Homo sapiens: one gene and its partners. The protein of the gene in region 2 purifies or fractionates together with the protein of the main gene of each other region. This does not show direct contact. Each region holds a gene or a part of one and is shown on either strand. Other genes may lie near its edges. The genes, in order: PLEKHG3, MTMR10 and MTM1.

Region 1 (3,731 bases), on a different chromosome or scaffold from region 2:
ACTCACATGTATTGACAGTATAAACCATGTGCCACGTGCTAGGGACACAGCAGTGAATAAGACACATCCTCATTCTCATGGAGCTTACATTCCAGTAAGCAAGACGGCCACAAAAAGGTAGACAAATAACTAACACATTTTTGGAAAGTGTAAGTGCTATGAAAAAGATAGAGGAGGGAAAACAGAATACTCTGAGAGATGGGAATTTCCACTAGCTAAGGAGGCCTGGGAAGGCATTAAAGAGGTGACTCTAGAGCAGAGAGACCTGTATTGTAAGAAGCAGCCAAACATGTGAAGCTTTGGGGGATGAGCCTTCCAACAGTCTTTTCCTCTACCCCACCATAGCCATCCACTCACATGTCTCATATGCCCCAGACCTCATCATCACCAATAAGTGCACGCTTCCAAAACCTTGCTTTGAAGTATCCCATCCTCTGTAACCACTGAAGAGGAACCTGATACAGAAATTTCAAACCACACAAGGAAACAAACCATCATAAGGAAGTCAGAAAATTGAACAAACTGGCACTCAAAGAACTAGAAATTAAAGAATAGGTCTACAAAAGATGTTTAAAGATGAATAGTTTAAATGATTGGAAATATAAAAGAGATAAAAATCTTAATAAAAGAAGATGGTAGTATAGGGGGTAAGGAACAGGCCAATTAGAAAAAGCAATACATGAAAATAAAATATTCAATATTGAAATATAAAACCCAATAGTTAAATAGAAAATTAAACACAGCTAAAGAGAGAATTAGTTAAGTGAAAGATAAACTGAAGAAATCATCCTGAATTTAATTCAAACAAATAAGATAGGAAATATAAACATTAATAGACTTAGAGGTCCACAGAGAAAAAAAAAGGAAATGGGGGAAGGTGCAAATTTCAAAGAGATAATGTATATGAACTTTCTAGAACTAAGGATAGACTTTAGTCCTCAGATTGAAGGCACACACCAAGCTAAACTTCAAATAAGCCCACATTCAGACATACTGTATATAGTATATATGCAGAACACCAAAGACAAAAAATATCTTAAAGGATGATAAGGAAATGTCATGAACTATATGCCAATGAATTGGATAACTTTGTTGAAACAGCCAAATTTCTAGAAGGGCACAAACCACTGACAGATTTAGAAAGAAAAAGTCTAAACAAGAGATTAAATTAGTAACTTTAAAACTTCCAATGAAGAAAAGCCCAGGACTAGACGGCTTCCCTGGTGAAGTCTACCAAACATTTAAAGAATAATTCATATCAACTCTTCACAAACTCTCACCCCACAAAAAAACAGCAGGAAATACTTCCCAACTCATTCTATGAGGCCAGTATTACCCTGCCATCAGGACCAGACAAGATATCAGAAAAAAGAAACCTACAATCCCACATTCCTTATGAATATAGACACAAAAATCCTCAACAAAATACTAACAAATTGAATCTAGCAACCACAACCATACATTATGACCAAGTGGGATTTATCCCAGAGATGCAAGATTAGGTTAACATCTAAAAATTAATTAAAATAATTCAGGTTGATAATAGGATAAAGTGTAAAAATCACCTGATCACTTCAATACACCCAGAAAAAAATTTTGACAAAATCCAACACTCTTCTATGATAAAAACGCTCAACAATCTAGGAAGAGAAGAGAATATCCCCAACCTTACACAGAACATCCATGAAAAACCCACAGGTACATCATAATCAATGGAGAAAGACAATGCTTTTTCACTAAGATTAGTAAGAAGACAAGGATATCCAGTCTTGCCACTATATTCGATACTGGAGTTCCAGCCAGGGCAATTAGACAAGAAAAAGAAATAGAAGAGATCTGGGTTGAAAAGGAAGAAATAAAACAATCTCTATTCATAGATAACATGAACTTGTATATGGAAAATCCTAAGTAATCTACCACAAAACTATTAGAACCAATAAAAGTGTTCAGCAATGTACCAGAATACAAGATCAACACACAAAAATCTATTTTATTCCTGTACACTAGCAATGAGCAATCATAAAATGGAATTAAGACTCCCATTTATAATAGCAGCAAAAAGAATAAAATACTTAGGAATATATTTAACGAAAGAAGTGTAAGACTTGTATGCTGAAAACCACAAAACACTGTTGAAAGAAATTAAAGAAGACCTAAAAGACATTCCTTGTTCATGGAATGGAACATTTAACATTGTTAATATGGCAATACTCAACAAACCAATCTAAAGATGCAATACAATCTCTATCAAAATATAGCTGATTTTTTTTTTGCAGATATTGACAAGCTGATCCTAAAATTCATATGGAAAAGCAAGGGACCCAGAATACCCAAAACAACCTTGAAAAAGAACCAAGTTGGGGGGCTGATACAACCTGATTTCAAAACTTACTACAAAGCTATAGTTATCAAGACTATATGGTACCGGTGTAAGGGCAGACATATAGATCAATGAAAGAGAATTGAGATTACAGAAATAAAACAACATATTTATTGGCAACTGATTTTCAACAAGGGTGCCAAGACAATTCAATAGAGAAAGAATAGTCTTTTCAACAAAAGGTGCTAGATCTTCACATGCAAAAGAATGAATCTGGACACCTATTTCAAACCATATACAAAAAAGTCAAAATGGGTCACAGACCTAAATGTAAGAGCTAAAACTATCAAACTCTTAGAAGAAAAGATAGGAGTAAATCTTTATGAACCTGAGTGAGCAATGGTTTCTTAGGTGTAACACCAAAAGCACTAGCAACTAAAGAAAAAATAAATTGTACTTCATCATCAAAATTTTAAACTTTTGTGTTTCACAGCACACTACCAAGAAAGTGAAAAGACAAATCACAGAATGGGAAAAAATATCTGTAAATCGTATACTTGACAATGAACTTGTATCCAGAATATATAAAGAACTCTTGGCCGGGCGCAATGGCTCACACCTGTAATTCCAGCACTTTGGGAGGCCAAGGCAGGCGCATCACAAGGTCAGGAGATCGAGACCATCCTGGCTAACAAGGTGAAACCCTGTCTGTACTAAAAATACAAAAATTAGCCAGACGTGGTGGTGGGTGCCTGTAGTCCCAGCTACTCGGGAGGCTGAGGCAGGAGAATGGCATGAACACGGGAGACGGAGCTTGCAGTGAGCCGAGATCATGCCACTGCACTCCAGCCTGGGCAACAGAGTGAGACTCCGTCTCAAAAAAAAAAAAACAAAAAAAAAGCATTCTTGTTTCAACTGAGGCAAACACCCTTTGGGATAACTGGCAATCTGCTTGGGTGGAGCCGAATTAAGATTGGACTCATCCAGGCTCTACTGTAACACAGTCAAACTTTGGCCAGCTGGAACCTCTGTAGAGAGAGGGCATCCAAAAAGCAGCATTTGCAAGAGCATGCAGAGTTTCAAAACAGTGTGGGGTAGGGCTAAGAGCGGGCTCCAAAAGTTCAAACCCCATCCCTGCCAAGTATTAGCTGAGCGATCCTGAGCAAGTTACCCAACTCGTGGGGACTTGGTTTCCTCATCTGGGGTGGGTGAAGTGGGTAAACCACCTACTTGGTCTTATTTAAAGGATTAGTGATATTATTACCTAAGTATCAACACTTAAAATTTTAGCCAACCTGACTGGGAATCTTTTAAAAATCCGTTACACACTTCCCTGCCTTCCTAAACAGAGTCAAGGGAACATAATTTAACCTTTTCTTGATGACTCTGGGTCACAATTACCAGCAAAGCA
Region 2 (3,500 bases):
CCTTTTCTATTACAAATGCATGGAGAAATGGAGGATGAGTAGGGTTCTCCAATACGATGAGAACACCCACTGGATGAGAGAAATTGTGATTATTAGGCTCTGCATGCATTTGTGAGTTAAACACACACTCTGACTGTATCAGTTCAGGATTACTTTATATGACACATTACTATTTGATTTTTTTCTAAGAGTCTTAAAGATTTTTGCCTTGTTAAAGTCAATCAAGTTTGGCAGTTGTTAAATGTACTTCTGCAAGCCTGGCCAGGCACGGTGGCTCACGCCTATAATCCTAGCACTTTGGGAGGCTGAGGTGGGCAGACCACCTGAGGGCAGGAGTTCGAGAGCAGCCTGGCCAACAAGGTGAAACCCCATCTCTAGTAAAAATACAAAAATTAGCCGGGCGTGGTGGTGCATGCTTGTAATCCCAGCTACTTGGGAGGCTGAAGCAGGAGAATCGCTTGAACCCAGGAGGTGGAGGTTGCAGTGAGCTGAGATCGTTCCACTGCACTCCAGCCTAGGTGACAGGAGCGAAACTCCATCTCAAAAAAAAAAAAAGTACTTCTGCAAGCTTAAGCAACATTTTGTATTCATATACTATGCAACATGAGTATATAGTCTTCCCTCAGTATCCATGGGGAACTCATTCCAGGGCCTCCTTTGGATACCAAGATCCACAAATGCTTAAGTCCTGGATATAAAATGATGTTAATATTTGCATATAACCTATGCACATCCTCCTGTACACTTTAAGTTACCTCTAGATTACTTATAACACCTAATACAATGTAAATGCTATGTAAACAGTTGTTATACTATACTGTTTAGAGAATAATGACAACAAAAAAAAAGTCTGTTCATGTTCATTACGGCCAAAGCTTTCCCCCGCCAATATTTTCAGTCCTGGGTTGGTTGACCACAGATGGGGAAGCCATGGGTACAAAGGACCTACTACTGTATTATACGAAGGTAGTTTTTAGTCTATTGAACTTTATCTGCAAACTTACAAATTCTATTAGCTGTAAGTTATTTAATATGTAATTATCCTTTGCTTAACTGAAAGATTTTTACATCACCGTTTATTCCTACCAAATATTACATTACTAGCTATTCAGCAGTTCAGTCTAAATTTCTTCATCTCAAACTGCTTCCTTAGAGTCATAATCTAGCATGAGCCAGAAGGTATTTAAACTAAAACAAATTTGTACAAATTAGACAGCAAAATTACAGAGAGAGAATGCCCTGTCAAAATTAACACTAAGTATTAATCCATTAGGGGATGGGACCCACCCTTCCCATAAAATAGGAAGGATAATTTAATAAAGGGTAAAAACTGGACTACTTTCTATTCTTCTATTTGCAGTCCTTGTGCCACTGGTTTTTATTTATTTTTTTTTTGAGTCTTGCTGTGTTGCCCAGGCTGGAGTGCAGTGGTGCGATCTCTGCTCACTGCAACCTCCGCCTCCTAGGTTCAAGTGATACTCCTGCCTCGGCCTCCCGAGTAGCTGAGACTACAGGCGCACACCACCACTCCTGACTAATTTTTGTATTTTTAGTAGAGACAAGGTTTCACCACGTTGGCCAGGCTGATCTCAAACTTCTGACCTCAAGTGATCCGCCCGCCTCGACCTCCCAAAGTCTGGGATTACAGGCTTCAGCCACTGCGCCCAGCCTGTGCCACTGTTTTACTCAAATGATGTGCAAAATCTGTAATGTATTTGATGGTACTGTAGTAAATAAGAAATAGCTAAAACTGATGTGATTTACTTGAATGGGGACAAGCAGTAAACCAAGGCTGGCTGGTATGGTGGTCATGGTGCTTTCAGGAGTTACTTTAGTTACCTTGTAGGACTACAGAGAGATGTTTGCTTTCTAGCATGTATACAAGTTCTGCTGAATGCTTAAGGAATGCCCTGAAGAGAGAAAAGGAAAAGCAGTGTTAAAAATCAAATTTCCACTACAAATACATAAAGTACTTGAAATCAAGCAAATCTAATTTCTCACTTTACAGATGCTCTCTGATCATGATATTCCCATAACTCATGACCCATGATAACCCACTGTAAGCTGAAAATACCCTAAACTGAGACTGTGTGGCTGACTGGCAGCTGTGGCTCCCTGCTGCTACTCAGCATCACAAGAGAGGATTGACTGCTTTCTACTGAATGCACATAGCTTTCGCATTACCGTAAAGTTTCTTTAGTTACTTATACGATTTCTCAAAGGAGTATATTTTGTAATTTTTGTTTTCTTTTTAAGAGACAGGCTCTCATTTTGTCACCCACACTAGAGTGCAGTGGCATATCACAGCTCATTGTAACCCTGAACTCCTGGCCTCAAGTGATCCTCCTGCCTCCACCTCCTGAGCAGCTAGGACCACAGGCACGAGCCACCATGCCTGCCTAGTTTTAAAATTTTTTTGTGGAGATGGGCATCTCACTATGTTCCTCGGCTGGTTGTGAACTCCTGGCCTCAAGTGATCCTCCTGCCTCAGGCTCCCTAGGACAGCAGGCACATGCCACCATGCCTGGCTAGTTTCCAACTTTTTTGTGGAGATGGGGTCTCACTGTGTTGCTCAGGCTGGTTGTGAACTACTGGCCTCAAGTGATCTTCCTCCCCAGAGCTTTGGAATTACTGGCATGAGCTACCACAACCGGCCCCACTTTGTAAATTTTTTTTTTTGAGATGGAGACTTGCTCTATCACCCAGGCTGCAGTGCAGTGGCGTGATCTTGACTCAATGCAACCTCTGCCTCCCAGGTTCAAGTGATTCTCCTGCCTCAGCCTCCTGAGTAGCTGGGACTACAGGTGCGTGCCACCATGCTTGGCTAATTTTTGTATTTTTAGCAGAGACAAGGTTTCACCATGTTGGCCAGGCTGGTCTTGAACTCCTGACCTCAGGTGAGCCACCCGCCTTGGCCTCCCAAAGTGCTGGGATTACAGGCATGAGCCACCACGCCTGGCCTCATTTTGTACTTTTTCATCAGGGAAATTCATAAACCCTTTATGAAAAGGAAGGGGTTGACTTATGACAAAACTATAGAGATTGAGAAGAGATTAGTGGTAGTCAACAGACACAGATGGCGATGAGGGTGCACCTATAAGAAGGCTAGCACAGGGGAGCCTTGTCATGGAACAGGTCTGTATCTCCCTGTGGTGGTGGTTACGTGAACCTACACACGTGATAAAATCGCACAGCTGTGTTAAGGGCATGCACACAGACGACAGCATGTATGAACTGGTGAGTAAGAGCTATCCAGTGTCCCAGTGTCAGCTTCCTGGTTTGGATGCTGTACTCTAGTTACGAGATGTTACTATTGGGGGAAGTTGGATGAAGAGTAAGTACATGGCCCTCTGTGCTATTTTTGTACCTCCAGTGAGTCTGTAGTTATCTCAAAATAAAAAGTTAAAGGAAAAGAAAGTAAAGAAGTACAAACCTTACATATTCTAACCATCGAGTATTTTCCAGTGAAGATAACCATTTCTCTTCAGTTTCTTCAAAAG
Region 3 (3,731 bases), on a different chromosome or scaffold from region 2:
CCTCAGTAATCAAGACACTGCAGTACTGGTATAAGGATAGACATACAGATCAATGGAACAGAACAGAGACTATAATTAGGCCCTTCTTTTTGAGGTCCTAGCAATGGTCAATTGATTTTCAACAAAATTACCAAAATGTGTGGGCCTTTTCCCACAAATGATGCTGGAACAGTTTGATGTCCATATGGAAAAATAAATGAATCTTTACCCTTACTTCACAAAATATACAAAATTAACTTGAAATGGAACATAGACATACTAGTTTTATATTGCTGAATAACAAACTTAGCAGCCATAAACAGCACACATTTATCATCTCACAGTTTCTGTGGGTCAGGTGTCCAGGCACAGCTTAGCTGGGTCCTCTGCTCAGGGTCTCACAAAGTTGCAATCAAGGTAATGGCCAGGCTGCATTCTCATCTGGAGGCTCAACTGGGGAAAATCTGCTTCCAAGCTCATTCAGAGTGTTGGCAGAACTCATTTCCTTTAGGCTGCATGGTTGAAGGCCCTGGCTTTTTGCTAAGCAGCTTTTAGTTCCTAGAGACCACCTGCAGTTCCTTTCTATGTGGCCTTCCTCAATGTGGCTGCTCACATCAACAAGTCAGCAAAGAGAATCTCACCTCGGGGAGGACCCAGACCTTCTTTTAAGGGTTTTGTGCTGATTAATTCAGGCCTACCCAGGATAACTTCTCTTTTGATTAATTCAAAATCTACTGGTTGTGACCTTAATTATATCTGTAGAATCCCTACACTTTTTCCATATTCTAGTCTATATTCTAGAAGCAAGTCACAGGTCCTGCTCACACTCAAGGGAAGGGGATCACACAGGTATAAACACCAGGGGTTGGAAAGATCTGTCTGCCAAAACAGATCTAAACATAAGAGCAGGACTAAAAAAGTTCTGGAAGGAACACAGGGGAAAATTTTTGTGAACTTAGGTTAAGTAAAGATTTCTTAAAACACAAAAACTCAAACCATAACAGGGGAAAAAGTAAATAGGACTTCATCAAAATCAAAACTCCTTGCTCTTGCACAGGCACAGTTAAGAAAATGAAAGACAAACCACAGTTTGAGAGAACATGCTTGCAAATCACATATCTGATGAAGTACTTGTATCCAGAATATAAAAAGAACCCTCACAACTTCAGACAGACAATCCAATTTAATAAGAAATGGGCAAAAGATTTCAGCAAATCCTTCACCAAAGAAGATAAACTTAATGGCCAACAAGCACATAAAGACATGCTCACTATTACTAGTCACTAGGAATTTGTAAGTTAAAAATACAATGAGATACCATTATACACCCAGTCAAATGGCTAACATTTTAAAGGCAGACAATTAAAGCCAGTAGGAATGCAAAATGGCACAATGGCATGGCCACTTTGGAAAACAGTTTGACAGTTCCTTGTAAAGTTAAACATACACTAAACATATGGCCCAGCAATGCCACACCTAAGTATTTACACGAAGCAAATAAAAGCATGAGTCCACACAAAGACTTGTATGTGAATGTTCATGGCAGCTTTTTTTCAAAATGGCCAAAAACTGAATCAACTCAAATGATCAACTACTGAATGAATAAATTACATTATAACCATACTATGGAATACTACTCAGCAACAGAAAGTCAGGAACTGCTGATACATGCAACAACACAAAAATGAATATAAAAAGCAGTATGCTAAGTGAAAGAAGCCAGCCACAAAAATACCACATAAGCCTATCCTTGACAAATTTCAAAGAACTACGAGTGTTCACATCATATTCTTTCACCATAATGCAGTTAAGTTGTAAATCAGTTTTGAAAATACCCAGAAAATACATTTGTAAGTAAAAATATACTTCTAAACAGCTCGCAGGTGAATGAAATAATCATAATAGAAAATATCACAACTAAATAATCATGAAAATACTATGTTTTGAAACATCCAAACAGCAGAATAAATCTAAAGAAAGGAGGAGAAAATGAAGAATGATTCCTGGTATATTCTTTAAGTGAAAAGGGCAAGAGGCTGAATAGTGTATGAAATATGTTTTTGTGCAAGAAAAGGGGAAAATACATGTACGTGCTTGCTCAAATTTGCAAAAGATACTTAGAAGAACAAACTAATAAGATTGATCATCTACGGGGGGGAAAGAAACAGAATACCTGGTCAGAGATGGGGTGAAAGCAAGACTTTTCTGAATATACCTTGAAATAAATGTGACTTCAAAATCATATAAAGTTTTTACTCGTTAAAAATTAATCAAAAAAGCAGGGGAAAAGCCCTAAAAGGGAAACAAATGAACATAATTATATTATCAAGTTGGTGCCATAACCACAACTGACAAACCTCTGGTTAGACTAATAAAGAAAAAAGGAGGGCACAAACAAACAATAGTAGGATGCAGGAATGAAAAGACAGACACAGCTATAGATTTGGCAGACATTTGCTGGTAGTTTATAATCTTCCAGGCCCCAGGCAGCTCCATGTGCAAGTTCTAGCAACATTCAAGGAACCAGTAACTCCAATCTTATACAAACTTCCAGAGAACAGAAAAAGGGAATATCTCAACTCACTTTATAAGGCTAGCATAAGCATGATACTAAACTAGACCAAGACAGCACAGGAAAACTAATACCAAATCTTATGTATATAAGATGTAAAAATCCTAAAGAAAGTATTAGCAATCAAACCCAGCAGTAAGAAAGAACATGACCCTGTTGAGTTTATCCCAGCAATACAAACTTAGTTAATGCTACAAAGTTATACTAGAAAATCCCTTAAAATAGCCTACCACATTAACAAGTTCAAGGAGGGAAAACACAGGTTCTCCCTCACGCCTGTAATCCTAAGCACTTTGGGAGACTGAGGCAGGAGAATTGCTTGAGGACAGGAGTTTGAGACCAGCCTGGGTAACACAGTAAGAAGCCCTCTCTACAAAAACACAAACCAAAAACCTATCTCCATAAAGGAAGAAAAGGGGCTTGATAAAACTCAACATCCACTTATGACCGAAAAAAATGTACACTAGAAGTGCCCCTACACAAAACCTAGAGTAAACACAATACTTTATGGTGAAACATTGAAAGCAAGAGCCTTCTCAAGTAAAGATCTTGGGCCCCACCCCAGACCTACTGAATCAGAAACTCCAGGCATGATGCCAGGAATTTGTAGTTTTGCAAAAACCCCTCAGGTGATTATGATGTGGCTTGCTGCTCTGAGTGGGAGCCACAGAGCAACACTGTTGGCATCACCTGGGAGCTTGATGGAAATGAGAAGAAAAAGCTCTCCGGGCCCATCCCGGAACCACTGAGTCAGAATCTGTGTTTCAACTCGAAGTCCAGGTGATTCATAAGGCAATGAAGTTGGAGAAGCGCTCCTGGTAGTGCTGCACGCTGGGACCACTTTTTAAAAATGCAGATGTCAAGAGTCTCAGCCCAGATCAATTAAGTTCGAATATCTGTGGGCGATGCCCAGGGCAGCAAGTATGTAAAACTCCCCAAGTGATTCTAATGAGCAGCAGGAAAGGCAATCTCCTGGTCCGTGGTATTCCCTCTATGAGGAAACTTCTGTTTAGGGACTCTGCACCAGCTCTGAAAAGCCAGAGAAGAAAGAGGCATTCCTCGAGTTCTTTGAAGTTCCCCTCAAGAAAGAAGATTGCATTTCATACATATACCAATGGTGCCTTTTTAATATGGCTTACAAAACTAAAAACTGAAACCGAGAAAAAACCCTGTAGTCATG

The links.
Region 1: the proteins of MTMR10 (region 2) and PLEKHG3 purify together in Homo sapiens (affinity purification with mass spectrometry; one large-scale study listed by BioGRID and IntAct). This does not show direct contact.
Region 3: the proteins of MTMR10 (region 2) and MTM1 purify together in Homo sapiens (affinity purification with mass spectrometry, with the first as the bait; one large-scale study listed by BioGRID). This does not show direct contact.

The regions. Positions count from the first base shown.
Region 1 is NC_000014.9:64,710,898-64,714,628, reverse strand, and holds part of PLEKHG3 (pleckstrin homology domain-containing family G member 3), read right to left. Parts: intron 1-3,731. UniProt on the Homo sapiens protein: Plays a role in controlling cell polarity and cell motility by selectively binding newly polymerized actin and activating RAC1 and CDC42 to enhance local actin polymerization.
Region 2 is NC_000015.10:30,950,129-30,953,628, forward strand, and holds part of MTMR10 (myotubularin-related protein 10), read right to left. Parts: coding exon 3,434-3,500; intron 1,911-3,433; coding exon 1,840-1,910; intron 1-1,839.
Region 3 is NC_000023.11:150,575,052-150,578,782, reverse strand, and holds part of MTM1 (myotubularin), read right to left. Parts: intron 1-3,731. UniProt on the Homo sapiens protein: Lipid phosphatase which dephosphorylates phosphatidylinositol 3-monophosphate (PI3P) and phosphatidylinositol 3,5-bisphosphate (PI(3,5)P2). Has also been shown to dephosphorylate phosphotyrosine- and phosphoserine-containing peptides.